Homo sapiens: one gene and its partner. The protein of the gene in region 1 interacts with the protein of each later gene in a pairwise test. Each region holds a gene or a part of one and is shown on either strand. Other genes may lie near its edges.

Region 1 (8,046 bases):
TCCTGGTACTCTGGAAAGAACATTGAAGAAAGAAGACAAAGATTCAGTTCCACCTCTGCTATCTAATCATGCAATTCTGGCCAAGGCACTTGTCCTCCCAGGCCACCAGCTCCTCTTTGATGAGATAATGTGTCCTTGGAAAAAGTATAGCCTATAAGAAAGAACATGCCTCCAAGTAGTAAAAAGATTTGAGAACAATTGTGTTAATGCATGTTTTTTAGATATCTGTTGACAGAAGAGTAAAATCAAGAGCCCGTATCTTAGGAGGAAATTTCCTTGAGCACTTTCATTTCCATATATTGAGTACAGATTGAAGAGGGATAATTCAATATGCTTCTGTTCAACAATTATGATACCATTTACCAAGCATTTGCTAACAGCTTTAAGAGTTACACAATAGATCCCAGCACTTTGGGAGGCTGAGGCGGGCAGATCACCTGAGGTCGGGAGTTTCTGATCAGCCTGACCAACATGGAGAAACCCGGTCTATACACCCGGGAGGCGGAGGTTGCAGTGAGCTGAGATCACGTCATTGCACTCTAGCCTGGGCAACAAGAGCGAAACTCCACCTCAAAAAAAAAAAAAAAAAAGAGCTACACAATAAATAACTTGCTTTAACACATCAATAGCTTCACATTGATACAAAGACAATGATTGTAATGGTTAATTTTATGTGTCATTAGGCATTCCACCAAACATAATTCCGCATGTCTGTGAGGGTGTTTACGGATGAGACTAAAATTTGCATAAAGGAGAGTGCCCTCCCTAATGTGGGCAGGCCTCATCCAGTCAATCGAAGGCCTGAATAGGAAAAAAGTCTCAGTAGGAGGAAACTGCTCCCACCAGACTGATTGACTTGGGACGTCATCTTTTCTAGCCTTCCCAGTAGGACTCAGTCATCTGTTTTCCTTGGGTCTCCACCCTGTTTGCTTTCAGACAGGAAATAAACCATCAGCTCTTCTGGTTCTCCAGCCTTTGGACTTGAACTGAAATGACATATTGGCTCTCCTGGGTCTCCAGCTTGTGAACTGCAGATTCTGGGACTTCTCGGCCTACATAATTACTTCAGCCAATTCCTTATAATAAAATTATACAATATATTATATATTATATTATATTATATTATATTATATTATATTATATTATATTTACAAACACAGACTATTAGTTCTGTTTCTCTAAAGAACCTTGACTAATACAAGAACCAATCTCTACACTCCTTAGCATGGCCAAAATGCCCTATACGACCTGGTTTCCATCTACCCCTCCAACTAAATCTCAGACAGAACATGATGCCACCTCCTCCACTCCACCCTCATCAGCTTTCTTCCATGTCCTCACACATACTGTGTTTCCTCTGTCATGGGGTTTTCACTCATTTATTTATTTATTCATTGATAAACTCAACTAATTATTGAATTTCTACTATGAGTCAAGCACTGAGGTTGTACTGGGAATATAAAGTGAACAGGTAACAATGTGGCTAGTTTCATGGAGAATATGTTCTAGTCACAGAAGACAGAAATAGATCTACAGCCATACCTGAACATGCCTGATCTTGGAAGCTAAGTGAGGTCCAGCCCGGTTAGTACGTGGATGGGAGAAGACAGAAATAGCATGTAAATAAACAGGTTAATTTCAGGACGTGACATGTGCTTCAAAGGAAACAAAACAGGGTGAAAGAATCATTTGGTGATCAGAGAAAGCCCCACTCATAGGTGTTTTTTAAGTACAATTTTATATGAAGGGGCCATCCATGTGAGGACTTGAAGAAGGAGCATTCCAGGCAGAGAGAATTACAAACACAGAACTAACTGTGAGATAAGTTTATCTATAGATAAACACAGAGAGAGAGAGAGAAGCTTATATACATATATATGTGTGTGTGTGTGTGTGTATATATATATACACACACACACACACACACACACACATATGGCATGTGTCTATAGCACAGTGGGGCAGCAAGAGAAGGTAGATAGGTAAGCGGAAATGAGATAAAGCCTTAATAGCCAGAATAGGATTTAAATTTTTATTTGAAGCACACTGAGAGGCTTTGGAGGGTTGACATCATCTGATTTAATGTTTGATTTCACACTGCGATGTTTAACAGTGGACATGGGGAGACTAGTAAGGGAGGTTTGCAGTAAGGATGATTGGTGGTAGCAGTTTGGATTATGGGGATGTAGAAAAAAATGAAGAATGATTCAGGATATATTTTGGAGATGGAACAGATAGGAATTGCCCATGTGACTGGAGAAAAGAAAGGGTAACTCCTAAGTTTTTGACTTGAACAATCAACTGGGCAATAGCATCATTTTCTGAGATATGAAATTCTGGGTAGAGATGGGAATGGGGCTGGGGGAGGGCAAGGGGACAAACTGCTCATACTGTCCTTCTCTTGGGACTGTTTTTCACTCCCTCTTCACCTAGTTGACTCCTTCCTATTCTTTGGATCTCAGCTCAAATGTCACTTTCTCAATGAAGTCCTTCCCTGATGAGTTCAAACCAAACCTCTATATTAAGTATACACTCAATTGCTGCCATGTAGTTTCCCCTAATAGTAGACTGGAAAAGTAGCCACCAATTCCTCTACCAACCACACCATCCGTAACATTTCCACTGCCCTCTCACTCTGATCCCTCTAGTCTAGGCCACATGGCTTGCATCCGCCAATAGTGTATCAGCAAACATAACATAGGCAGAGACTTGAAAGGCACTTGTGCAGTTGACTTGTCCTGCTCCACTGTTTTGGAACTCTGAAACCATGGAAAGAAGCCTGGCTGAGGTGCTAGACAATAAGAAACACGTGGCCCCTGCTGACGACCTGCCAATGCCGTGACACAGAAGTGAGGCCTCTTAGATCATCCAGCCGCCAGCTGACCAGAAAGGTGAGTAAGAGCCCAGCTGAGCAGAACCAAGGTAAAAGAACCACCCAGCTCACTCAGAATCCCAAGCTAACCAAACGATTGTAAAACGTCACTAAGTTTTGTGGTGATTTGTTACACTGCAAAAGTGGATACAGTAGCACATACCTCAGTGGCAATTTTACACATCTTTGATTAGCTTCTATCACTGCCACATAACTGTGAGCTCTCTAAAAGCACAGACTATTCTGACCTTAGGTTACTGTGCCAACCTCAAAGCCAAGCATAATACCTGGAACACACCAGGCATCCAACCAATAACATGCTGAGCGAATGCAAGGAGCAAAGAGAGATACACATTGTAACACAAGCGAATAGGGGAAGTTCAAAACAAAGGACTGAGGACATCTATTTGTACAAAATAAAAACTTTTAATCAGCAGCACACGGCAGCGAGGAATACAAGACCAAAATCACATTTAATCTGTCTCAAAGGGTTCAAAGTCTAGGGTACAGGAGGCAGTACAAAATCAACGAAGTGTACTGTTTGAGCATTCCAACACTTCGCTCCTTCAGACAGTATTAGGACCCCGTCCCAAAGCGTTAGGACAAGGCCCTAACGCTGCCTGAAAAAGTGAAGTGACGGAGGATCCCAGAGAGGTTTCTTGAAGCAGATAAAGTCTGAATTGAGGCCGGGCCCGGTGGCTCACGCCTGGAATCCCAGCACTTTGGGAGGCTGAAGGGGGGCGGATCACTTGAGGCCAAGAGTTCAAGACCAGCCTGGCCAACATGGCGAAACCCCGTCTCTACTAAAAATACAAAAAATCAGGCCAGCATAGTGGTGCACGCCTGTAATCCCAGCTATTTGAGAGCCTGAGGCAGGAGAATCGCTTGAACCCAGGAGGCGGAGGTTGCAGTGAGCCGAGATTGTGCCACTACACTCCAGCCTGGGCAACAGAGCGAGACTCCATCTAAAATACATATATAAATAAACAAAGTCTGAATAGAGTCCTTGCAGTATTTACTGGGAAAAGCAGCACACGCAAGGCCAGGAGGGTCAAAGGGACAGAGGCGTTCAAAGGACAAAGGAGAGCCTCCTGTTTGTTTGGGGTTTTATTCTTTTTGAATTTTTGTTCCCCCAGGCCAACTCTAAGAGCCAGAACTGTTCGTTATTTATCTCAGCACAGGTTCGGTGTAAGCGTTGCCTCCTTACCCGACGCTCAGGCCCTTCAGGTCCGGGACCCCTGCTTCTTAATTATGTTTCTATTACTCCCAGTGTCTAACACAATCTCTTCCACGAAGTCGGAACTTGATACATATTTGCTGAATAAACGAAAAGTTAAAGATGAGGCAGAAAGCACAGCTCCTTCCAAGGGCAGCTCTCAAGAGCCCACGTTTTCAGATTCAGCAGTGAAGCGGACGCGTCTGGTACGAGACTACAAGTCGCACAGGCGGAGAGGGGGCCCCCGGGCCTCTGGTTTCACGTCTCCCTCCTGGTCCCCGGCGGACCGGCGTCTTTTCTCCCCTGCTCGGAGTAGCCTAGCAGCGCTGGAGGCTGGCTGTCTGGTAAGCGCGGCTGTTAGAGAGGATGGAGGCGCCGTAGCCCCGCGGTGCTTCTCACAGCCTTCGCCGGCAGGGACGCGCGGGACAACCGCGCAGGCGGCTCTGCAGGGGTGGGCGCGCCATCACCCCTCTCGGTCCCTGCCTGCTTGGCGCTTTCCGAGCCCCAGCCGCGCTCAGGCTGCCTCGGGCATTGACCGCGGGGGCGCGCGCCCCGTTTCCATAGAAACGCCCGGCCTGCCGCGGCGGCGCGAGGGGCGGGCTTTCAGGCTCCCGGCGGCTGCTTGCGCCCCAGCGCGCGCCCAGGCGCCTTGGAATCCCCGTCCTTGGGCCCCCGCAAGGTCCCCGGCCGTGCGCGAGGCAGCATGATGAGGCGCACCCTGGAAAACCGGTAACAGCCCGAGCCCAGCTGCCCAGGGCCGCCCACACTGGAGGGCTGGGGTGAGGGAAGTGGAAGCCTCTGTCCATGGGGCCTCTGCGCCGAATTCCGACCCTGAGTGGGAGGCTGCACGGTCCCCGCTGTGACCTGGGGCCTAATTCCTTGGGCTGCAGCCACCGCCGGCGGCGAAGAGGAGCCCGGGGCCCGGCCGGCTGCCACCCACCCACGCCACCGGGTCTCGGGTCCCCACACTGCCGCGGGCAGTGCGGAAGCCTAGGAGGCAGCCGGGCGCCCAGGCCGCGCTGCGCGGAGCAGCCGGAGCAGCCACCTCCCCAGTTAAGGCCAGGCCCACCCGGCCTGGGCCTTTTCCTGTGCCTACACAGTCCGGATAGTGAGGTCAGGACCCCATGGAGAGCAGTCCGCGCCGGGAGACGCTGGGTCGTTGATGGGTTTACGCCTTCAAAGCTGCAGAATGCCCGGGGAATGTTTGCATGTTAAATTAACGTGAAGCCTTCTCATCTCTAACGAGAATGTTTTGCCTTTTGTGTCACCTTTTCCCTAGGAACGCTCAAACGAAACAACTGCAAACAGCTGTCTCAAATGTGGAGAAGCATTTTGGAGAACTGTGCCAAATCTTCGCTGCCTATGTGCGGAAAACTGCCAGGCTGAGAGACAAAGCAGACCTCCTGGTGAATGAAATTAACGCGTATGCTGCTACAGAGACCCCGCATTTAAAGCTGGGCCTGATGAACTTTGCAGATGAGTTTGCCAAACTTCAGGATTATCGACAAGCAGAGGTATGGAGTGAGATCACAGTGTCATTGTTATGAATGAGCCATGAAGTAGTGGATGAAGGAACCGTGGAAACTTTCACTTGTAATCTACCTAACTGCAGAGGTGGATGCAAACTTGATAAAACGTACATTTTCATAAGACTGTGTGAGTCTATTAAAGAGAAGCGTTCTGTGTTTTATTTTACCCTTTTCAAGCTAACCTTTAGGGCATCTTGAGGTCTTGAATTTCCCCACTTTATTTGCCAACTTTTGGCCAAGGGGTGGCTGTTTACTGGGGGTAGTGGGAATAGTACCCAGGGGGAAGAAAATAAGCATAACTTAATGTCTTGTGTGGCACATAAGTACGTTTTAAAGAATGACTGGAGATGGAAATGTTGGGAATGGTAATGTGGATGGATAAATTATTAATAAATGGGTAAGACATCATTGCTGCATCCATGGTTTGGAAAATTGACCAATGGTTTACTAACAACAACAAAATGCTATGAATTGTATCATGGAAGCAAACCAATACTGAGACACCGTGTGGACTTTTTGCTCTGGGTAGCAGGAGAAGTGTCCTTGTGATTGTTTTCTTTCTAAAAGCCCATATTTTTCCTTTAAATACTTAATAAGCACTTTTACTTGTATTTATTTTCAGTTTCACGGCATAGGTTAACTTATCAGAAGTTGCCCAGTTAGAACTGCGTTGCTTTTTTATACTTTTCAGAACCTAAAACGGGAATTTCAATTTTCAAAAAACAGAATGAGTATAAAAAAAATTGAACTCATCATTGCTATCCATACAAATTTGAAGAGTAATCATATTTGGAGGTACTTTTGGAAAAATGTGGAGTTCTTGTCATGAAACTTCTGTAATAAACAAGTAACTCTCAATTATATATGATAACTGGGGACTTAATGTTTCAAAGATAATTTATATTCACAGGTAATCCTAAAATCTTATTTTAGCCAATAATTTCAATGCCCCTTTGTAGAAAACCTTTGTGCTATTTATCAAATAGCAAAGTGAATTGATTTGCATTTGTTCTCCTTTTATTTCCCTTGCTTACCAAATGGTGGAGGTCCTAATGAACAATGACAAAAAGGTAGGCAACAAAAAGGAGAACAGAAAAAAGACTTAGATAATCCTTAAACTGAATAATCAGTATGGATTATAAGAAATGGTGTAAAGCAAACTGTCCTGAATATCCATGATTTTAGGATTCCTAATATTTGAATACTTGATGAGAAGTCGATTTTTATTTTCCTAACATGTTTTAAAATGAAACATTCATATACATTTCATTTACAGAAACTAAAGAAAAATCAATATGAAATTAAGTGTATTTGTCAATTATATAAATATGTATCATTAAAAAGCCCTTTTCCTGCTATTAAAAAATGTTCATTTTAAGCAATTGAATACATCACCTATCTTGAGAAAAAAAATTTTAATGTCCAAGAGTTATTTTTCTTATGCTATATTTAAATACTTGCCTTAAAAAAAATCTCTCTTCAGTGCCTTCCACTAGTACTACTTGTAAAAGAAGTAATTACTCAAAATGTGATTTAAAAACCTGTAACGTTTAAGAAAAACTATTTAATTCTAAATGAAACAGAGATGAAACATACAGTTTGACAGCTCAGCAACTCAGACCATTTATCTTGTTCTGTAGGCTTCGATAATTCACAAATGGCTTCTCAGAAAAAAAAATGCAGCAAATACAGTGATCTCTAAGCTTTTTTGCTTTTCAAGGTTATGTTGCTTTAAATGTTTCCAAGATGCTCTGTCTTTCAGCTTTGATTTTCTTTTCTGAAAAGTTGAGCTATTACAGTTCAGAGATAATATATGCAAAGTATCCATTACTGTGCTGAACACACTGAAAATGTTAGCTGTATTAAAATTTGAACTGTCTTAACACCCTTAAACTACTACTTTAAGGTAAAAAAGTAATCCTAAGATGATGATGTGGCCAGGATGAGCTCCTGGGAAACCTGAGACATTTTCTTGTCATTTTGCTCACCAGGTGCTTTTCTACTTTTACTATTACTGTGCAGCTTAACAGTTTTTAATGTGTTTTGAGTTTAGATTCTGAGTCTTATCAATTTCTAGTGATTAGCCTTTTATTTATAGGTTAAAATGTTAAACGTTCTAATTTAAAATTTTAATAATTTTCAATAGGTTGAAAGACTTGAAGCCAAAGTAGTTGAACCCTTGAAAACTTATGGGACCATTGTGAAAATGAAACGGGTAAGTAAATCCATTTTCTCACTTAACTGTGAGTTACTCTGGCAAAGACTATGAGGTTTCCAATTGTTTTTTTAAATAAGAAATACAAAGTAGTGGCCAAGAGTGGTGGCTCATGCCTGTAATCCCAACACTTTGGGAGGTCGAGGCGGGCGGATCACGAGGTCAGGAGTTTGAGACCAGCCTGGCCAACATAGTGAAACCCCGTCTCTACTAA
Region 2 (7,954 bases), on another chromosome or scaffold:
GTAGTAAAAACTCATGAAACCTTACACTTATGATTTGTGGTAGACTTTTCTGTATTAATGTTATATATATATATATTTTTTTTTCTTTTTTAACCTTTTTTTGGTAGAGACGGGCCCTGCTAAGTTGCCCAGGCTGGTCTTGAACTCCTGTGCTCAAGTAATCCTCCCTCCCTGGCCTCCCAAAGTGCTAGGATTACAGGTGTGAGCCACTGCTCCCAGCCTAAATAAAAAGTTTGCTTCTCCCCTCCTTTTCTCCCCAAAAACCAGGGTGTTATCAGGAAATCTACTTAACTAGGCCTAGGTGAATTGCAATAGGTTGCATTATGCTAAAAGCAAATGTACAGGTTGGGGGGGTGTTGTTGTCAGCTCCGCCATGTCGTGGACCTGCCCCCTTTTCAGGACACCTCACGTCACCTTCCATAACAGAACAGGTAACGTGACATATGAGGTGCACTGTTGACAAGTGACACTGGTGACAAGTGAGGAGCACTGTTATCAATCTGGAAAGGAAATATAAGCATAGCTTTACTCATTTATTTATTTATTTTTTTAATTTATTTTTGAGACAGAGTCTTGCTCTGTCACCCAGGCTGGAGTGCAGTGGCGCAATCTCGGCTCACTGCAACCTCTGCCTCCTGGGTTCAAGCAATTTTCCTGCCTCAGCCTCCCAACTAGCTGGGATTACAGGCACCCGCCACTATGCCCAGCTAATTTTTTGTATTTTTAGTAGAGACAGGGTTTCACCACGTTGGCCAGGCTGGTCTCAAACTCCTGACCTCTTGATTTGCCCGCCTCGGCCTCCCAAAGTGCTGGGATTACAGATATGAGCCACCGTGCCCAGCCATTTCTTTCTTTATTTTTTTTTTTTTAGAGACAGGGTAATGCTCTTTGACTCAGGCTGGAGTGCAGTGGCATGATCATAGCTCACTGGAGGCTCAGACTCATAGGTTCAAGTGATCCTCCCACCTAAGCCTACTGAATAGCTGAGACTACAGGCACGCACCACCATACCTGGCTAATTTTTGTATTTTTTGTAGAGACAGAGTTTTGCCATGTTGGCCAGGCTGGTCTTAAACTCCTGGGCTCAAGTGATCTGCCTACCTCAGCCTCCTGAGTCACTGAGACTGTAGTTGTGTGCCACCATGCCAGGCTAACTTTTTTTTTTTGAGACATGGTCTCTCATTCTGTAGCCTAGACTGGAGAGCAGCAGTGGACCACAGCTCACTGCAGCCTCAACCTCCCTGGGCTCCAGCGACCCCCCAGCCTCAGCTTCCCAAGTAATTGGGACTACAGGCATGCGCCACTGTGTGCCACCCAAAAAATCTTAGCATACCGCGTAGCACAAAGGGAGCGTTCAGCACATGGGAGCTATTACCAGGCGTCTTAATCCATTTTGTGCTGCTGTTACAGATTACCACAGACTGGGTAATTTATAAAGAAAAGAAGTTTATTTGGCTCACAGTTCTGGAGACTGGGAAGTCCAAGAGCATGGTGCAAGTATCTGGTGAGGGTCATCCTGTGTGAGGCAGAAGGCTCACATGGTGAGCAAGTGCATGAGACAGACAGCATGGCAGCAGAACTCATCCTTTTGCCAGGAGCCCACGCCAGAGAAAACTAACCTACTCCATGACAATGGCATTAATCCATTCATGAGAGCAGAGCTCACATGGCCCAGTCACCCCTTATACTGTTAAACAATGGCAATTCAATTTCAACATGAGTTTTGGTGGGGACATTCAAACCATAGCACCAGGATCGTTAGTAGCCACATGATAAAATGTATGTCTTCAAGATTTGAAGACAATGGCATAAGGTCAGTGATCCAGCTGCTTGTACCCCTGACTTTTTCTGACCCTAGGAGAAGGGAGCACTGGCTTTGCTTTCATCAGGCCAAAGATGCCTTTCTTTGGGAATACGTTCAGTCCGAAGAAGACACCTCCTCGGAAGTCGGCATCTCTCTCCAACCTGCATTCTGTGAGTGTCGGTACTGGGGTCGGCCGGGTGTGCAGCATGAGTTGAGTGCTGAGCGTGTCTCTGAATGGAAAGTGTGGTCCTCCAGAGGCATCAGTGCAGGAGGGCATCCTTTCCGTCCATATCATTGCTATTGCGGAAAACATTTTTGAACTCTTGTTTGGGAATGATCGTCAGAGCTTGTTTATCCAAGAACCTAAGAAGACAATCTCATTATGATATTTGACCCCAAATATCCAAATTTTTTTTTTCTTTTTTGAGATGGAGTCTCACTCCCGTCCCACAGGCTAGGGTGCAGTGGCGCGATCTTGACTCACTGCAACCTCCACCTCCCGGGTTCAAGCGATTCTCCTTCCTCAGCCTCCTGAGTAGCTGGGATTACAACTGCCCGCCACCATGCCCGGCTAATTTTTGTACTTTTAGTAGAGACAGGGTTTCACCATGTTGGCCAGGCTGGTCTCGAACTGCTGATCTCAGGTGATCCACCCGCCTTGGCCTCCCCAAGTGCTAGGATTACAGGTGTGAGCCACTGTGCCCAGCCAGTATCATCCAATTTGACTTCTACTTTATTCTGTGACCTTTTCCTACAGAGCTAGCTATGCAGACTGGCCATGTCTTCACAGAAGGCGAGTGGGGTTGAACAACAAGGCTGTGGGGGCTGAGCATTCACTACAGGTTTCAGGTCTTAAGAGTCTGTTGTCTCCTGTTCCCAGTGAAAATCATGGTGGGGGCAGCCCCACTGTGGCCAGAGCTGGGCATTCTGTGGAGCAGGCCAGGCAGAGGCTTAGGATCTCAGTTTCTGGTGCCCCTAGGCCTGAGGCTCCCTTTCCTCTCTGCCATGTGTGAGAGATGCAGATACACCTGGCGGTCCCTCTAGGACATCCTCTGTCCTAATCCCACACAGCGTAAGAGCAGCAGTGTGCTTACATGACGTCTGTCTCTGACCGTGACTTGAAGTCGGTCCTCCCCTACATTGTTTTCCACATGCTGACAGGTACTTGTAAGCCTTGGTACTTGTAAGGCCTCCACAGCGCTCCATATGGTCACTGGTGGATTTTATTAGTTCCCCGTTATTACAGGATAACCACCCAGATCTTGGGAGCAGCACAAATGACCCTTGGTGGCCTCACTCCAGCTCTCCTTCCTGCCCTTGCCCTCTGCACACCCTGTGCTGCAGCCGCCCAAGCCCCGTGTGAACCTCCTCTGCGCACGCTACTCCTTCTGCCTAGAATGTTTAATTCTAGAATCTAGAATAGATTAATTAAAGAGCTATTGATTGATACCTTTCTATGTGCCAGGCACTCTCCTAAGCACTGGGCATGCAGAAGTGGATGAAGGAGGGGAGAGAAAAACATCAAATCCCTGCTTTCATGGGGCAGATACTTTAACGGAAGGCTACAGAAAATAAGCAAATTTATATCAGATGGTGATATGTGCCAGACAGCAAAACAAAGCATAGGCCTGGGATGGGGTGTGGCTGAGCACTGGGGACTGAGCTTTCATTTTCAACAGGGTGGTCAGGAAGGCCTAACTGAGAAAGGGACATTTGAGCACTTACCTGAAGGTCTCCCTGTGTTGAGCCGCTATTGAGGGCAGAGCTGGTCATACGCATCCCTGGATACCCAGTACCGAGTCCCGAATCGGGGTGGGTGCTCAGTGAGTTGTAGAAATGAATATCTAGGCCAGGCGCAGTGGCTCATGCCTGTAATCCCAGCACTTTAGGAGGCTGAGGTGGGCGCATCACTTGAGGTCAGGAGTTTGAGACCAGCCTGGCCAATGTGGCGAAACTCTGACTCTACTTTAAAAAATACAAAAATTAGGCCGGGCACGGTGGCTCACGTCTATAATCCCAGCACTTTGGGAGGCTGAGGTGGGCGGATCACAAGGTCAGGAGTTCGAGACCAGCCTGGCCAATATGGTGAAACCCTGTCTCTACTAAAAAATACAAAAATTAGCCAGGTGTGGTGGCGTGCGCCTGTAGTCCCAGCTACTCGGGAAGCTGAGGCAGAAGAGTTGCTTGAACCTGGGAGGCAGAGGTTGCAGTGAGCCAAGATTGTGCCACTGCACTCCAGCCTAGGCGAAAGAGTGAGACTCCGTCTCAAAAAAAACCCCAAAAATTAGCCGGGTATGGTGGTGCATGCCTGTAGTCCCAGCTATTCAGAGGCCGAGATGGGAGGATCACTTGAACCCGGGAGGCGGAGGCTGCAGTGAACTGAGATCGCACCACTGTACTCCAGCCTTGGTGAAAGAGCGAAACTCCGTCTCAAAAAAAAAAAAAAAGAAAAGAAAAGAATAGAATATGTAAATTGTACTGTCGCACGTTAAGAAGCAACTCCTCTTCCTCCTAATTGTTAGAATTTTATGTCTTTTCCACAACATATGTAGCTCCATATTAAGCAAATGATAACTTGGGGGACTATTACATTTAAAAAGAATTTTTCACTTGATTAACAGTTTATAGTAGGATTGCTTAAACTATTAAGTGTCAAGTAGGTATAAAATAATTCAATTTATAAATTTCAGTATATATAGCTTTTCTGGAAAACATCTAATGTATAAAACAGTATATTTTTTATCTCACAATTAAACTTTTCCTGTACATCATTTGATTTTATGGCTTTAAAAAAATCATTAAAGGTGCCAAGTAATGATTAGAGAAATGAGTTGTTGGGGTCATATTGTTGGCGGAAGAGGAGCTGGGATGAAGGCGTGTTCCGGGCCTGCTGAAGTTGTCACATAGCATCTCGCCCACAGTTGGATCGATCAACCCGGGAGGTGGAGCTGGGCTTGGAATACGGATCCCCGACTATGAACCTGGCAGGGCAAAGCCTGAAGTTTGAAAATGGCCAGTGGATAGCAGGTGAGCTGCACTTCCTGCCATTTTGTCAAACAAGATTGTAGGAGGAAATCCCCCTTTAACTGGTTCTGTCCTTCCTCCAGAGACAGGGGTTAGTGGCGGTGTGGACCGGAGGGAGGTTCAGCGCCTTCGCAGGCGGAACCAGCAGTTGGAGGAAGAGAACAATCTCTTGCGGCTGAAAGTGGACATCTTATTAGACATGGTGAGGCAGGTGATGGGGAAGAGAGGCCTAGCTTCTCCTTTTGGGGAGGCTCCACCTCGAGTCACTTAATCCAACAGATATCTCCTCAATGCCAGTTTGGCCAGGTACGTTGCTTTGCATCCAAAGCCACACGCAAGGAACAAGACACAGTTCCTGCCCTCACAGTGTAGAGGCAGGTGGACCGACCGTAAGCATAATTACATAAGGACCCAGTTGGAGTCTGCACAGGATCTGCACAGCACACGAGGGAGAAGTTATTTCTGTCAAGTCGGGAGAGCTTCCCAGAGGAAGGGATATCTGAGCTGAATGTGGAAGGATAATGGCAGGAATAGAGGTTAGATGAAGGCATTCCAGGAAGAGGGGTAGAGCCGGCTCATGGCTTGGAAGTGTCTCATACCAAGTAGGCATTAATCAGTGCCCAGTACAGACCAGCTGAGGGGCTCACACTGCATTAGTGTTGGTTTCTTGTGGCTGTTAAAAATCCAGCAACCCACTGGGCCTAGAGGAGCCTGTGAAGGTTCAGAGGCAGGAGAGCATACACTGTAGTGGTTAAGAGCACACACTCCAGAGCAAAATGGCCTGGGTTCCTCACCCAGCTCTGCTACTGACTAACTGCTCTGTAACTTAATTTCTTCAGCAATAAATGGCATAATAGCTAATTGTGGTGGTGCACCCCTGTAGTCCCAGCTACTTGGGAGGCTAAGACAGGAGGATGGCTTAACCTCAGGAGTTTGAGAGCAGCCTTGGCTGCAAAGTAAGATGCCATCTTTTTTTTTTTTTTAAAAAAGGACTAGGCTGGGCATGATGGCTCATGCCTGTAATCTTAGCATTTTGGGAGGCCAAGGTGGACGGGTCACAAGGTCAGGAGTTCGAGACCAGCCTGACCAACATGGTGAAACCTTGTCTCTACTAAAAATACAAAAATTAGCTGGGTGTGATGGCATGCGCCTATAATCCCAGCTACTCAGGAGGCTGAGGCAGGAGAATTGCTTGAACCCGGGAGGTGGAGGTTGCAGTGGGCTGAGATCGCGCCACTGTACTCTAGCCTGGGCAACAGAGTGAGACCCCATCTTGGAAAAAAAAAAAAGAAAAAGACTGACATTTTAGGCTGGATGTTTTTTTATTTTTATTTTTATTTATTTATTTATTTTAGACAGAGTCTCGCTCTGTAGCCTGGGCTGGAGTACAGTGGCATGATCTCCACCCACTGCCCCACTGCAACCTCTGCCTCCCGGGTTCAAGTGATTCTCCTGCATCAGCCTCCTGATTAGCACCCGCCACCACGCTTGGCTAATTTTTGCATTTTTAGTAGAGATGGGGTTTCACCATGTTGGCCAGGCTGGTCTCCAACGCCTGACCTCAAGTGATCTCCCTGTCTTGGCCTCCCAAAGTGCTGAGATTACAGGCATGAGCCACCACGCCCGGCCTGGATGTTTTTTTTTAAAAATGAGCATAATCGTAGTATCTACCTCATAGTGAGTTAGTACAAGAAAAGCACCCAGCCTGGCCGACAGAGCGAGACCGTGTCTCAGAAAACAAACAAACCAAAAAACAAAAACAAAAAAACCCTAAGGAGGAAAGTGGCATTCTATTTCTAGCATTTTTTCCCCTCATCCCCATTATGGGAGCTACAGCTTAGAATCAATTTCAGCTCTAATCCCTTAGCCTTACAATCACCAGTATCTGCCTTTGACGTCCTCTGAGACCTGCTCTCCTTCGTGCAGGGAGTGCCATGCCCTCGTGGGTGACAGCGTGCTGACAGAGTGGACTGTGAATATTCTTCAAGTACTTGTGGTCCTGGGTCATCAGGGGTTGCATTCTACCCAGTTACAGAGGGTTTCCCATCGAGGAAGCCAGCAGCATCAGAGAAGTGGCAGGGGGCCTTTCCTCCGTGTGTAGGGCCGGCCTTGCTAACCCGAAACATTTCCTAGAAATGTGCTGCTTGCTAACAGCCGCTGCTTCACTTTCAGCTTTCAGAGTCCACTGCTGAATCCCACTTAATGGAGAAGGAACTGGATGAACTGAGGATCAGCCGGAAGAGAAAATGAAGACCCCAGAGACATTTATTGGGGAGTAGGATGTGGCTGAGTGCTTTTTTTTTGGCCAGACTAGCGGATTCAGTCCTGGAAGAGAGTATCATATAATGAGACCCACAGGCACTGGCACCCTTGGGTTGGCAATAGAAGGTGACATGGAATGGAGAAAACCAAGATTCCAGATGGGGATAGTAACTAGAAGGTGCTTCAGATGCACTGCCTGCGGGTGCCAGTCTGAAAACCAGACCGCACAGAGGCCTGGGGCTGCTGATGAGCTTTTTGGTGCTCTCCACACACAAGCTCGCAAACACACATGTCCCAGAATAGCTCTGTTGGGTTGTGTTGGGAGAAGCGGCTGGAGTTCATTCTCTCACCCCCTTATGTTGGTGTTTGGCGTGTGACAGCAGTTCTACAGAGCTCTGTGTTGGGGTCATGGATGAGCGGCTCTCTTGGCTCTTAAAGGCAGGCCTCTCTCTTCTTGCCTTTAAAGAATCCTCCTTCCTCACACCTGGCCTCCTCTGGCTTCAGCTTCTCAGCAGCAAGCACCAGCCTTCCACAACAACACTATATTTTTATGCTACTTTCCTGTTTGCACTACTACTTTTTTATTAAACGATGTTAAATAATCTCTCTGTGACCAAAGTGACTAAAAAGAGAACCATGAGTTTCTCAAGAAGTAAATGGAGCTGGCCAGGCATGGTGGCTCACACCTGTAATCCCAGCACTTTGGGAGGCTGAGGTGGGCAGATCACCTGAGGTCAGGAGTTCGAGACCAGCCTGGCCAATAGAGTGAAACCTCGTCTCTACTAAAAATACAAAAATTAGCCAGGCGTGGTGGTGGGCACCTGTAGTCCCAGCTACTTGAGAGGCTGAGACAGGAGAATCGCT

What was found. The genes of interacting proteins can lie anywhere in the genome.
Region 2: the proteins of CIBAR1 (region 1) and CBY1 interact in binary tests that used the Homo sapiens proteins (3 or more experiments, as listed by UniProt).

Annotation. Positions count from the first base shown.
Region 1 is NC_000008.11:93,695,857-93,703,902, forward strand, and holds the start of CIBAR1 (CBY1-interacting BAR domain-containing protein 1), read left to right. Parts: upstream 1-4,693; 5' UTR 4,694-4,791; coding exon 4,792-4,817; exon of another isoform or gene 4,818-4,892; coding exon of another isoform or gene 4,893-5,201; intron 5,202-5,367; coding exon 5,368-5,602; intron 5,603-7,763; coding exon 7,764-7,832; intron 7,833-8,046. UniProt on the Homo sapiens protein: Plays a critical role in regulating mitochondrial ultrastructure and function by maintaining the integrity of mitochondrial morphology, particularly the organization of cristae.
Region 2 is NC_000022.11:38,666,159-38,674,112, forward strand, and holds the end of CBY1 (protein chibby homolog 1), read left to right. Parts: intron 1-1,858; 5' UTR 1,859-1,896; coding exon 1,897-1,974; intron 1,975-4,725; coding exon 4,726-4,831; intron 4,832-4,911; coding exon 4,912-5,030; intron 5,031-7,000; coding exon 7,001-7,078; 3' UTR 7,079-7,692; downstream 7,693-7,954. UniProt on the Homo sapiens protein: Inhibits the Wnt/Wingless pathway by binding to CTNNB1/beta-catenin and inhibiting beta-catenin-mediated transcriptional activation through competition with TCF/LEF transcription factors.